Homo sapiens: one gene and its partners. The protein of the gene in region 3 purifies or fractionates together with the protein of the main gene of each other region. This does not show direct contact. Each region holds a gene or a part of one and is shown on either strand. Other genes may lie near its edges. The genes, in order: CNKSR2, LRRC47 and TNIP3.

Evidence for each region.
Region 1: the proteins of TNIP3 (region 3) and CNKSR2 purify together in Homo sapiens (co-immunoprecipitation; one large-scale study listed by IntAct). This does not show direct contact.
Region 2: the proteins of TNIP3 (region 3) and LRRC47 purify together in Homo sapiens (co-immunoprecipitation; one large-scale study listed by IntAct). This does not show direct contact.

The regions. Positions count from the first base shown.
Region 1 is NC_000023.11:21,426,418-21,429,917, reverse strand, and holds part of CNKSR2 (connector enhancer of kinase suppressor of ras 2), read right to left. Parts: intron 3,422-3,500; coding exon 3,258-3,421; intron 1-3,257.
Region 2 is NC_000001.11:3,782,845-3,786,574, forward strand, and holds part of LRRC47 (leucine-rich repeat-containing protein 47), read right to left. Parts: intron 2,360-3,730; coding exon 2,243-2,359; intron 1,268-2,242; coding exon 1,152-1,267; intron 1-1,151.
Region 3 is NC_000004.12:121,133,223-121,136,952, forward strand, and holds part of TNIP3 (TNFAIP3-interacting protein 3), read right to left. Parts: intron 3,464-3,730; coding exon of another isoform or gene 3,357-3,463; exon of another isoform or gene 2,556-3,356; intron 1-2,555. UniProt on the Homo sapiens protein: Binds to zinc finger protein TNFAIP3 and inhibits NF-kappa-B activation induced by tumor necrosis factor, Toll-like receptor 4 (TLR4), interleukin-1 and 12-O-tetradecanoylphorbol-13-acetate.

The DNA of each region.
Region 1 (3,500 bases), on a different chromosome or scaffold from region 3:
TTATTTTATTTTATTTTTTTGATACAGGGTCTCGTTCTGTCACCCAGGATGGAGTGCAGTGGCATTATCACAGCTCACTGCAGCCTGGACTTCCTGGGTTCAAGCGATCCTTCCACCTCAGCCTTCTAAGTACCTGGTACTACAGGTGTATGCCAGCACACCTGGCTAATTTTTAAATTTTTTGTAGAGATGTGGTCTTGCTACATTGCCCAGGCTGGTCTTGAACTCCTAGGCTCAAGTGATCTGCCCTCCTCAGGCTCCCAAAGTGCTGGAATTACAGGCATGCCACCATGCCCAGCCTCAGGTTAATTTTTATAATTACAATTCTCAATTACTACCAATACAGATACCTTCTGGCTATTTCTTTCATGTAAGTGGATGGTTTGTTGTGACATGGTAAGTCACCAGTAAATCACACACCCTTACCTACCATTTAAAGAACTGACAAGTATATCAAGCACCTTTTGTGTTAGGCCAGGGGTACGGAGGGCACTGCCTCAACTTTTTAAAAATGCAGGTTTATTCACCACAGATTTGCTTTTTATTGGATATGCATAGCAAAACTTGGTATTACTATTAGTATAAAAAGGACTACCTCAAGAAAACAAAAACTTATACATGAAATGTACTTAGCTGCTGTGTTTGTCATATATGTTACTTATTTGTTCATATACTTGGCCATTACCATGTGCCAGAACCAGTAATGACTTAGAACTGATTCAACACAGCCATTTAAGTCTTAATGAATTTATGCTAAGTTCATATCAGCCTTCTCTTTCAATCATATGCATGCAAAAGCATTTGAAAGAAATAAAGAAATGTATTTAACATTTTAGAAAAATAAGGTCAGCTATATCCTCACTAGTGGCAAATTTTCACTAACCACTTAACTAGAAATACTTAATATTGGCAACAACAGATTTTACAATGTCAATGCCATTTTATTCAGAGTTCTTAATTTGAATGCATCGTGTAGCACCTTTTTAGCTTTATAATACATTGCTTTATAAATATGAGTGAGTCCTAAAAGGCTTGCTTTAATGAATTTTTTTGGAAAATAAATTATTTTAAGATGAATGAACCAAGCAATTATGTTGCAAAGAAACAAATCCCAGCAATTGCAAACATCAAATCTTTCATGCAAAATGCCTGAAATTATAAGTACATGAAAAATGAAATGAAAACTGTTCTTATCCTGTCATAAATGATTTATTTACAGTTCCTAATAAAAAGTGTATTGTCAGAACACAAATTAAGGACCATACGTTAAGCTATATATATATTTTTATTTACATTTTTACTCTTTCAGTTAATATCTTTGCTCTCTATTAAAGCATACTAAATTATAGCTTAATAGCTTGAAATATTATTACACCTCCAAATCATGAACAGCTTACTTCTTTCTAGAATAACATGATGCAAACAATATATCTGATGCTTAATAAATATATGTTGCATGAATAAACAAGTGACTAAATAAACCTTTGATTCTCATCAGCTGCCATAAACATTTATTCACATAAGGAATAACTTCAAGACAAGGTAGACGAAAATATAGTATAGCTTAAAGAAACAAAAGGAATCTGCTAATTTTTCTATGTCTTCCTTTATATGAGGAACAGAAACTTCAAAGTCAAAGGCTATGCAGGTAAGAGAAAAATTATGCTTCTCTGAAGAAAGACAGAGAGTTTAATTCAGTAAGATAACATTAATTTAGCATCTTTTATGAGCTAAGCACTGGGCAGAAAGCTGAATAAAAAATATGAACTAAACAAAGATGTCTTCCTTTGAGGAGCCCAACATGAATTAAAGGATAAAAGAACCTAAGCAAAGAATTGTAATACAAGGTGTTAAGTTCCCTTTTTTCCCATCACTTCCCATTCTGCACAAGCTAAATGAAAATTCTCAATTTTCTCTGAATATTCCATATTCTTTCACAATTCTGTCTTTACACATGATATTTCTTCTGCCTAGATAACTTTTCTCCAACTTTTTGTCTGGCAAACATCTCATCATCCTGCAAGACCAAATGCATATCTTACCTACACTTCCTGAATCCCTCAGAAGTGTTCATTTCCTTCTACACTCCCCTGGAATTTTCTTTAAATCTATGTTGTCTTCTGATGGCTATTGTCTTTCTTAATGGACTGTATATGTTTCAGGAGTACAGACTGTCTTTTTCATCTTTGCATTCCCCGTGATAGCACTGTTTGAGCATGAATATGTAATTGTTGAAAAAGAAATGAATACAGTAGACATAAGGAAAATGTAGAAAGGCCAGTAAAGATCAGAGAGACAAGACTTAGCAGGGTAAACGGAAATTCAAAGAGTAGTTGGGGATAGAGGGGAAGGAGGTAAAGATATAGTCCCAATAGCACAACTTCCTGGACTAGTCAACTCAGCTTGTTGATAAGGAATCTCACCTCCTGATTTCATAATGGTATGTAGAAGAAAATTAGAATTCACTACCCAGAAATTTGCTTTATATTCCCCAGAAAGCATCTGTTGCATAAACTGAAATACATCTGTACTTCTGACTTGTTGATGTATATCCACTACATTAGGAAGGGGTAAGAAGGAAGTTTAACATTTGACCTCTTTGGGGACTGCGACTAAGGAATTGCTGAATAAACAGAAAAAAAAATGGTGTTTAAATTTATTTTCCGCATTAACTTCCAGAAGAGCTCAATCACATAATGAACTATCCAAATGACATGACTTAAACCTGGTGCTTAAACCCAGAACTGTACAGGGATTAAAGCTCAGCATCAGAAAGGATTCACCACAGCTACATGGTTCAAACTTAGAAGTGGTCTAGACATCTATTTCTGATGCCATCCTTTTAAGTAGGTTTAGGTCGGCAGAGCCTTGTTCATGGGTCAAACTTCAAACGTCTAGACTGTATGTATGTAACACTGTCAATCAATATTCTTTCCTTTCTCAACTGGCAGTGTGAGAGCCTAGCACATGAGTGGTTCATCTATGAAGAGCCCTGCTTATGAGACATACACTCTGGACTTAAGGTTCTGATATACCCAAGTCTTACTGTTATAAAAGATGTTACAAACAGGGAACTGTTATTTGGCACTAATATAATAAATTTAAGGAAGGAAGAAAATATCAGGTCCAGCTGGTTGAGAATCAGAGTTTTTTTCTTCTATTTGCATTTCGATTATCAAAAGAGGAGAAGAAAAAAGGGAAAAGCAACAAAAGAAGAAAAAGAGAAGTTTCCCTCTTCACCAGTTTTATGTCCTTACCAATGCACACAGAAGGTCAACTGCTTCCAAGATCAGTTCCTGATGGCCAATGCGGCTGACCCCCAGATCTTCTAGCTCCTGATGTGTAATGCGCAGCAGCTGGTCCCCACTGATCTTCTCCCTCTCAAAGTTCTTAATATACTGCTGCAAACAGTCATCAAGACCTACAAAATAAAAGTATGAAAGACCAGAATGAAAACATGGTCAAACCAAATAAATGTGAAGGGTGGGTTAGAAGCAAGC
Region 2 (3,730 bases), on a different chromosome or scaffold from region 3:
CAGCACTCAGGAGGCTGAGACAGGAGGGCTGCATGGGCCCAGGAGTTGGCTGGGGTGTGCTGTGCCAATGGAGTGTCTACGCTAAGTCTGTCATCACTATGGTGAGCTCCTGGGAGTGGAGGACCACCAGGCTGCCTAAAGAGGAGTGAACCAGCCCAGGTCAGAAACAGAGCAGGACAAAAAGCTCCGGTGCTGATCAGTAGTGGGACTGCGCCTATGATTAGCCACCTCACTCCAGCCTGGGCAACATGGCGCGACCACATCTTAAAAAAAAAAAAAAAGAAAAAAGGCACAGCTGGGCGTGGTGGCTCACGCCTGTAATCCTAGCAGTTTGGGAGGCTGAGGCAGGCAGACTGCTTGAAGTCAGGAGTTCAGGACCAGCCTGGCTAACATGGCGAAACCCCGTCTCTACTAAAAACACAAATATTAGCCAGGCATGGTGGCAGGCGCCTGTAATCCCAGCTACTCGGGAGGCTGAGGCGGCAGAATCGCTTGAACCTAGGAGGTGGAGGTTGCAGTGAGCCAAGATCGTGCCATTGCACTCCAGCCTGGGCGACAAGAGTGAGACCCCATCTCAAAAAAAAAAAAAAAAGCACACACCTGAAAACATACCTAAAGGGTAAAATGGACGACTCAAAAAGTTCTTTACACAAATTAAGTGTAATATCAAGGGCCCAAGCATAACAAGCTTCAAAGAACAAAGTATTCTGAAGCCTGTGTTTACAGAAATCACTGGGCTAGTTACGGATGATCATCTTGCTTAGAGCAGCACCAAGGACCCTGACTTGGATGATACCCAACAGCGCACGGTATGGATAAAATGCTGTGGGTTGGGCTGGCATTTATGTCTGTTTCCTAATGGCTAGTTTATATCCTGTCCTGTCCCATCCTGAGGGCCACCCGCCCCCTGTGGAATGGCCAATACCTCCGCTCCTAACACCTTCCACTTCCCTCACGTCAGGGCCATCTAGATGACAGACTGGTTCCACAACGTCTCCTTTGGAAAGAGAATGCTTTCTTTGTACCCTGTTAAGAAGCTTCTGGGTTCTGGTAGCATTAGGCGGTTCCTGAGGAGCACAGACTAACTCAGCTGAGGCCAGCATGCGGCACTCCCCCGGGCCCGGCCCCACCCCACCAGGCACGCTGCCCACCTGTGCAGGCCCGACACACTCTGCCGCTTCTTCTGCTTCCTCTGCTCCTCGGCCTCCAGCTGCAGCTGCCGCACCAGCTCCTTGGCCTTGGCTTCTTTCCGCCCCAAGGGGACAATCTATCGGGCAGAAACCCACAAACTCCACTAGGGTCACAGCCACAGAACTCGCCCATCGTGTCGATTACGGCCTTAAGCCTCAATGAGCCCTCCCGACTCCCGCCCTCATTCATCTCTACAGCAGGCAGGGAGCATCCCACGGGACCACGCAGCAAGAAGCTGCATGTGGGCTGCCACTGCAGCGTCCCGGGGAGACCTGACGCCCAAACACACCGATCCTACTGAGGCAGGGCTTAACCTTAAAGCCAGCTCATGCACAACTGTTTCCAGAGGTCTGCCATCCTCAGAAGGCCAAAAGAGGAGAGAAAGGCTGAGCAGCCGGGACCTCGTGCACTCCACAGATTCAACAGCCCAGGACAGCACGACACAGCAACTCACCCTACTGCCAACCCCACGCAAACGGTTTTACTATCGGGACAGAGACCAAAATTTCTGATTAAAAGGTAGTGAGCGAGTGAAGGAAACCATTTTCCCAACGACTGCTCATCCGCCGAGTCCTCTCACAGCTGTGCACCGCTTCGAGTAACCGCAAACGCGGTCTGTTTCATTATTTCATGTCTTTGCAAGAACAGCATCGGATCCTACTCTAAAGAAAATGTTCAGGCCGGGTGCGGTGGCTTACGCCTGTAATCCCAGCACTTTGGGAGGCCAAGTTGGGCGGATCACCTGAGGCCTGGAGTTTGAGACCAGCCTGACCAACATGGAGAAACCTCGTCTCTACTAAAAATACAAAATTAGCTGGGCGTGGTGGCACATGCCTGTAAACTCAGCTATTCGGGAGGCTGAAGCAGGAGAATCGCTTCAACCCAGGAGGCAGAGGCTGCAGTGAGCCGAGATTGTGCCACTGCACTCCAGCCTGGGCAACAATGGAACTCCATCTCCAAAAAAAAAAAAAGTTCGGGCTGCAGTAGCAGCATGGCGTCTTTCGACACCAAGGAGACTCTTCAGCAGACCCTGCAAAGGAGGCTGCAGCACCTTGAGGTCCTGTGGGGGCCGGGCGCAGTACAGCAGGGGCCCTTTGACGGCACGGAGCTCGTGGGTGGCAAGGGTGGCAGCCGTCCTCTTCTCACAGAGATCTTCGTGGAGCTTGGTCTGTAACACAGAAGCAGTGATGAGCAAGGTCTCTTGTGCCCTGAAGCCCAGCGAGGTGTCCACACTTCACCCTTGGCTGGGCTGTGTGCCAGGAAACCCTCCCGGTCCAAGGTCTTCACAACCACGCCACGCCCCTTTCCGAGACAGGGCTCCCCTCCAACTCCTCTCCACCCGGCCAGCCAGGCACTCACTTTGTGGAATCACCATCAGGAAAACTATCTTAACCTATCAATCAGCAGACTTTCTTCCTTCTCTAATTCTGACATAATATTTGAGATTTCAAAGAACCCATCTTGAACTAAAATGTAAATAAAGGCTGAGCTTTAAGTTGTAAAGCCCTGGCTGTGATGCCTGTTCCCTTCCTCCCCAAGCTGCAGGCAGGACTCTCACGACAGTCACTCTCGGCCCGCCATGCTCTGTCGCTGCCACTGCGGGGCGCACGAGACTTTCCCCTGGGCACAGAGGTGCTTTATATTTTAAAAGTTGGTCAGGTGTCACAGAAAAGCAACTGGGAAGTTAGTCTTGCCAAAACCTAAACAATTCACAGAAGAATGTGCTGGCAAGAGTTGATGACTTTAATACTGTCTTACATAAAACAAAATGTGTGATTTACTGCAGAAGTCAGAAAACCCACCAAAATATCAAAAAATCAAGGAACCCTGATTTTCCTTTTTTTTTTTTTTTGAGATGGAGTCTTGCTGTGTCACCCAGGCTGGAATGCGGTGGTGCAATCTTGGCTCACTGCAACCTCCACCTCCCAGGTTCAAGTGATTCTCCTGCCTCGGCCTCCCCAGTAGCTGGGATTAAAGGTGCTCACCACCACGCCTGGCTAATTTTTGTGTTTTCGGTAGAGATGGGGTTTCGTCATGTTGTCCAGGCTGGTCTCAAACTCCTGACCTCAGGTGATGCACCCACCTCGGCCTCCTGAAGTGCTGGGATTACAGGCGTGAGCCACCGCACCAGCTGGAACCCTGATTTTCAACTGCAATAAAGCTATCCAGAAATTAGGATAGGCCAGGTGTGGTGGCTGACACCCGTAATCCCCACACTTTGGGAGGCCAAGGCGGGTGGACTGCTTGAGGTCAGGAGTTCAAGACCAACCTGGCCAACATGGTGAAACCTCATCTCTTTTAAAAATACAAAAAAATTAGCCAGACATGATGGTGAGCACCTGTAATGCCAGCTACTCAGCAGGCTGAGGCAGGAGAATCACTTGAACCCAGGAGGCGGACGCTACAGTGAGATTAGACTGCGCCACCGTACTCCAGCCTGGGAGACAAAGCGAGACTCCTTAAAAAAAAAAAATCAGGATAAACCGTTAACACCATATGTGGAGGAGCAAGGGATACGACCAGTGACCAGGACCAACCA
Region 3 (3,730 bases):
TAATCATAGAAATGCCAAGAAACAAAGAGTTATCCTTATCCCTGATAACTTAAAAATATGCTGAATGTTTTGTACTTGTTGTCCTCATTTGGTATACCAAAGATGTGCTAAACTAACATTTTGGTAACAGAAAAAGCAAATAGGAAGATAATAAGTTACTTTTCCAGGCTGAAAAATTATGTTGCTGAGGACTGTGGTCACTATGTTAAAAAGGTATCTAATATGTTGAGAACATAAATTTGAACTCAGAAGCATAAATTAATTGATCTAACCAATCTGAAGTTAACATTAAATAAATCCACTAATGATACCTCTCCCTAGGTATCTTAAATATTTTAAAATTAACTCCTTTTCAATTTGTACAGTGCTCTTGTGAAACAGGCATAGAATTAAAGATCAATAGCCTGATATTTTAGATGGAGAGAGGCTGTGGCCAATGAGATAATCCACGGCAGAATGGAAATCTGAACAAAAACAAAGATAGGTCTTTAGGTTCTTGAAGGGAAGGCAGAATTTCCCTAAATGTACAGTGAAGGTGGGAGGAGGGCCTTAATCCACTGTAACTGGTGTGTGTGTAAGAACAGGAAAATTTGGACACAGATGGAAGATGGTCATGTGAAGACCGAGGCAGAGATTGCAGTGATGCTGCCACTAGCTAAGGAATACCTGGAGCTACTAGATGCTGAAAGAGGCAAGGAAGTCTCCTCCCCAGAGGATTTGGAAGGAGCTTGGCCCTGCCAACATCTTGATTTTTGGATATCTAACCTCCAGAGCTATGAAAAAAAAAGTTTTTCTATTTTAAGCCACCCAGCTTGTGGTATTTTGTTATGGCAATCCTAGGAGACAAATCCAGTCAGTATTTAATTGGTTAGTATTAGACATTAGTAAAAGCTAATCATAATATTTAGGCTTTGATCTTCTATATTGTAAAGAAGTAATTTCACAACACAGTTTCACATCCCTACATTTTATGCCTTTCTAGATACATTAATAATCCATCTCTGGCTCATTAGACAAAGCATAACTCTGTACCCTATGAAAAATTTGGAATGTACAGAAGTGACTGGCATGCAATGCAATCAGAAACCATAGCTTTTTGACATTTCAGAAAGGAAGAAACAAACAACATGTTTTTCAAGGTTAAACTAACTCTGTTATGACATAATTGTTCTATAAACATGGAAGTCATTTTGCATCTCGTTCTGATAACAGATGAAACAAGATGAAAATGTTCTTTGTAAAATCACGTTTCTAAACAAAAGCTGTAACTCATTAATATCTGTGGACTTCAATGTATTAAAAACATCATTATTTAATGCTATACAGAGAGAAAGCCAAGTCTCAAATGACTTGAAAACATTCGAAACCCTTCATTTAAAATCTTTAGTTTTTGAAAGAAGGGTTGATTTTCAATGTGTCTCCAAAGCATTCTGAAATAACCACAGACAGTAACTGAGAGCAAAGCTGGAAATTAGTTGACTGGAAGTCTGTGCACCATGGTACTCAGCACCTACCACCCTCAGTCCCTAGTCAGGAAGCCCTTCACTGATGTCCCCATCTTATAGAGGACTCTGCTCTAGCCCTCCTCCAGCCACACCCTTCCTCACAGTGTGAGCGACGTTTCCTCCAGAACAAGCTCCTCCTGGCACCCAAATGCACATCCCCGAAGTCCCTGCCCAGGTGATTCTGGGCCTGCTTCCAAGATTCATGTGGTCCTCTTCCCAGCCTGAAGGCTGTCGAAAGAGTGTTGTGTGTAGAGTGGTGAGGGGTGTATGGACAAGGGTGGGATCTCCCAGCTGGGCTGTCTTCAAGTCTGCACTCAAGAGTCCTTATGATGGGAAGGTGGGGAGAGAAGGTCGAGGGTCCCAGGCAGGAGGCCAGGGCTTAGGTCTCCCTGTGCCACCATGTCCTGTCACAGACTGGTTTTGAAACTGAGCATTGTAAATTGTACTTTGGTTTTCCATGTATGTTTATCAAGGTAGGAGGATAGATTATACTTTAACAGTTTCTATGCTTGATTCATGAGATTTACACAGATAGGATGTAGCTCTCCACTTATTCTTGCTCCAGGCCCCAGAAATGTTAGAGGAGGATTTAGTGGTATCATTGAAATTTAATCACTCATTATCTGCCATACCTTTTCAAATGCATGAAGTTACTTCTTCTTCTTTTTTTTTATTTTTTTTTATTTTTGAGATAGAGTCATTTTCTGTCACCCAGGCTTGAGCGCAGTGGCGTGATCTCACCTCACCGCAACCTTGGCCTCCTGGGCTCATGTGATCCTCCTACCTTAGTCTCCCAAGTAGCTGGGACTACAGGCACATGCCACTAGACTTGGTTAATTTTTGTATTTTTTTGTAGAGACAGGGTTTCACCATGTTGCCCAGGCTGGGCTTGAACTCCTAGGCTCAAGCAATCTGCCCACGTTGGCCTCACAAAGCGCTGGGATTATAGGCATGAGCCACCACTCCTGGCCTTAAACTAGTGATTTCTTAATAGTCAATACCACAAAATTATTTTATGAGAATTCTGAGCAATTCAGTTACACCAACAGATTAAAAGGACCGTTTTAATTAAATGAACCCCAAACCAGCAAGAACCACTACTGAAATTAAATAATGACACATCCATCATTTATGACAAGAGTGATGTCAGAGTTCTGCCAATTCTTATGACATGGCTTAAGCTATGAAATACATCAACTGTGGAAGCTAGTAAAGGAGGCATAGGAATCCCAAACAGGTAGACTTTTGAGTGAGGAATTTTTTGGTGGTGCCCTAACCATGATCAGCCCTCTTCTCTGCTGCTGGCCAGCCATAGTTAGTTGCAGAGCTGTGTTAGTATGGAAAAGGATAGGTTTCAAATGACAACATATCCTGGTCAGGTTCCACCAGGGCTGTCCATGCACAGGTTAGTTCATAACATATTTATTACACACTTAATCTTACATAGTACCGTGCCTTTTACTTGTGATATTCTAAATGTCAAATGAGTAGCATGCTGTGAGTTCACACAAAGATGAGATTATTGAGGGTTAAATGCTAGTCATATTATTATCTATGTTAGAGTCCCCTTCTCATTTTTGTATCTATACTTTCAGAAAATTTCAATAAAGTGAGAGAGGTACAGTAAGAGGGGCACTGTACTATATAATTCAAACCATATGTTTTAGAATCCTATATATCAAATAATCTAATCCCCTTGCTAAATTTTATTAACTGTGTGATTTAGGCGTGTTACTTAAATTCTCTAAGCCTCAGTTTCCTCATGTGTTAAATAGTGCAAAACAAAACCTATTTCATAGCTTTGTTGTGAAGATTGAAATAATGCTTTAAAAACAGGCCGGGTGTAGTGGCTCACACCTGAAATTTCAGCACTTTGGGAGCCAGAGGCAGGAGGATCACTTGAGGCCAGGAGTTCGAGACCAGCCTGGCAACAGACTGGAGGTGGAGCAAGACACCATCTGAACAAAAAATAAAAATAAAAATTAGCTGGGCATGGTGGTTCATGCCTGTAGCCCTATTCATGAGGCTGAGGTGGGATGATTTCTTGAGCCCAGGAGTTTAAGGGTACAGTGAGCTATGATCACACCAGTGCACTACTCCAGCCTGGGTGACAGAGTAAGACTGTCTCCGAAAAAAAAAAAAAAAAAAAAAGCTTAGGTTGGTACATCATGGAGATTTTTTTGTTGTAGTTTTACATCTGTAGACACTGTTACATGGTATGTTTA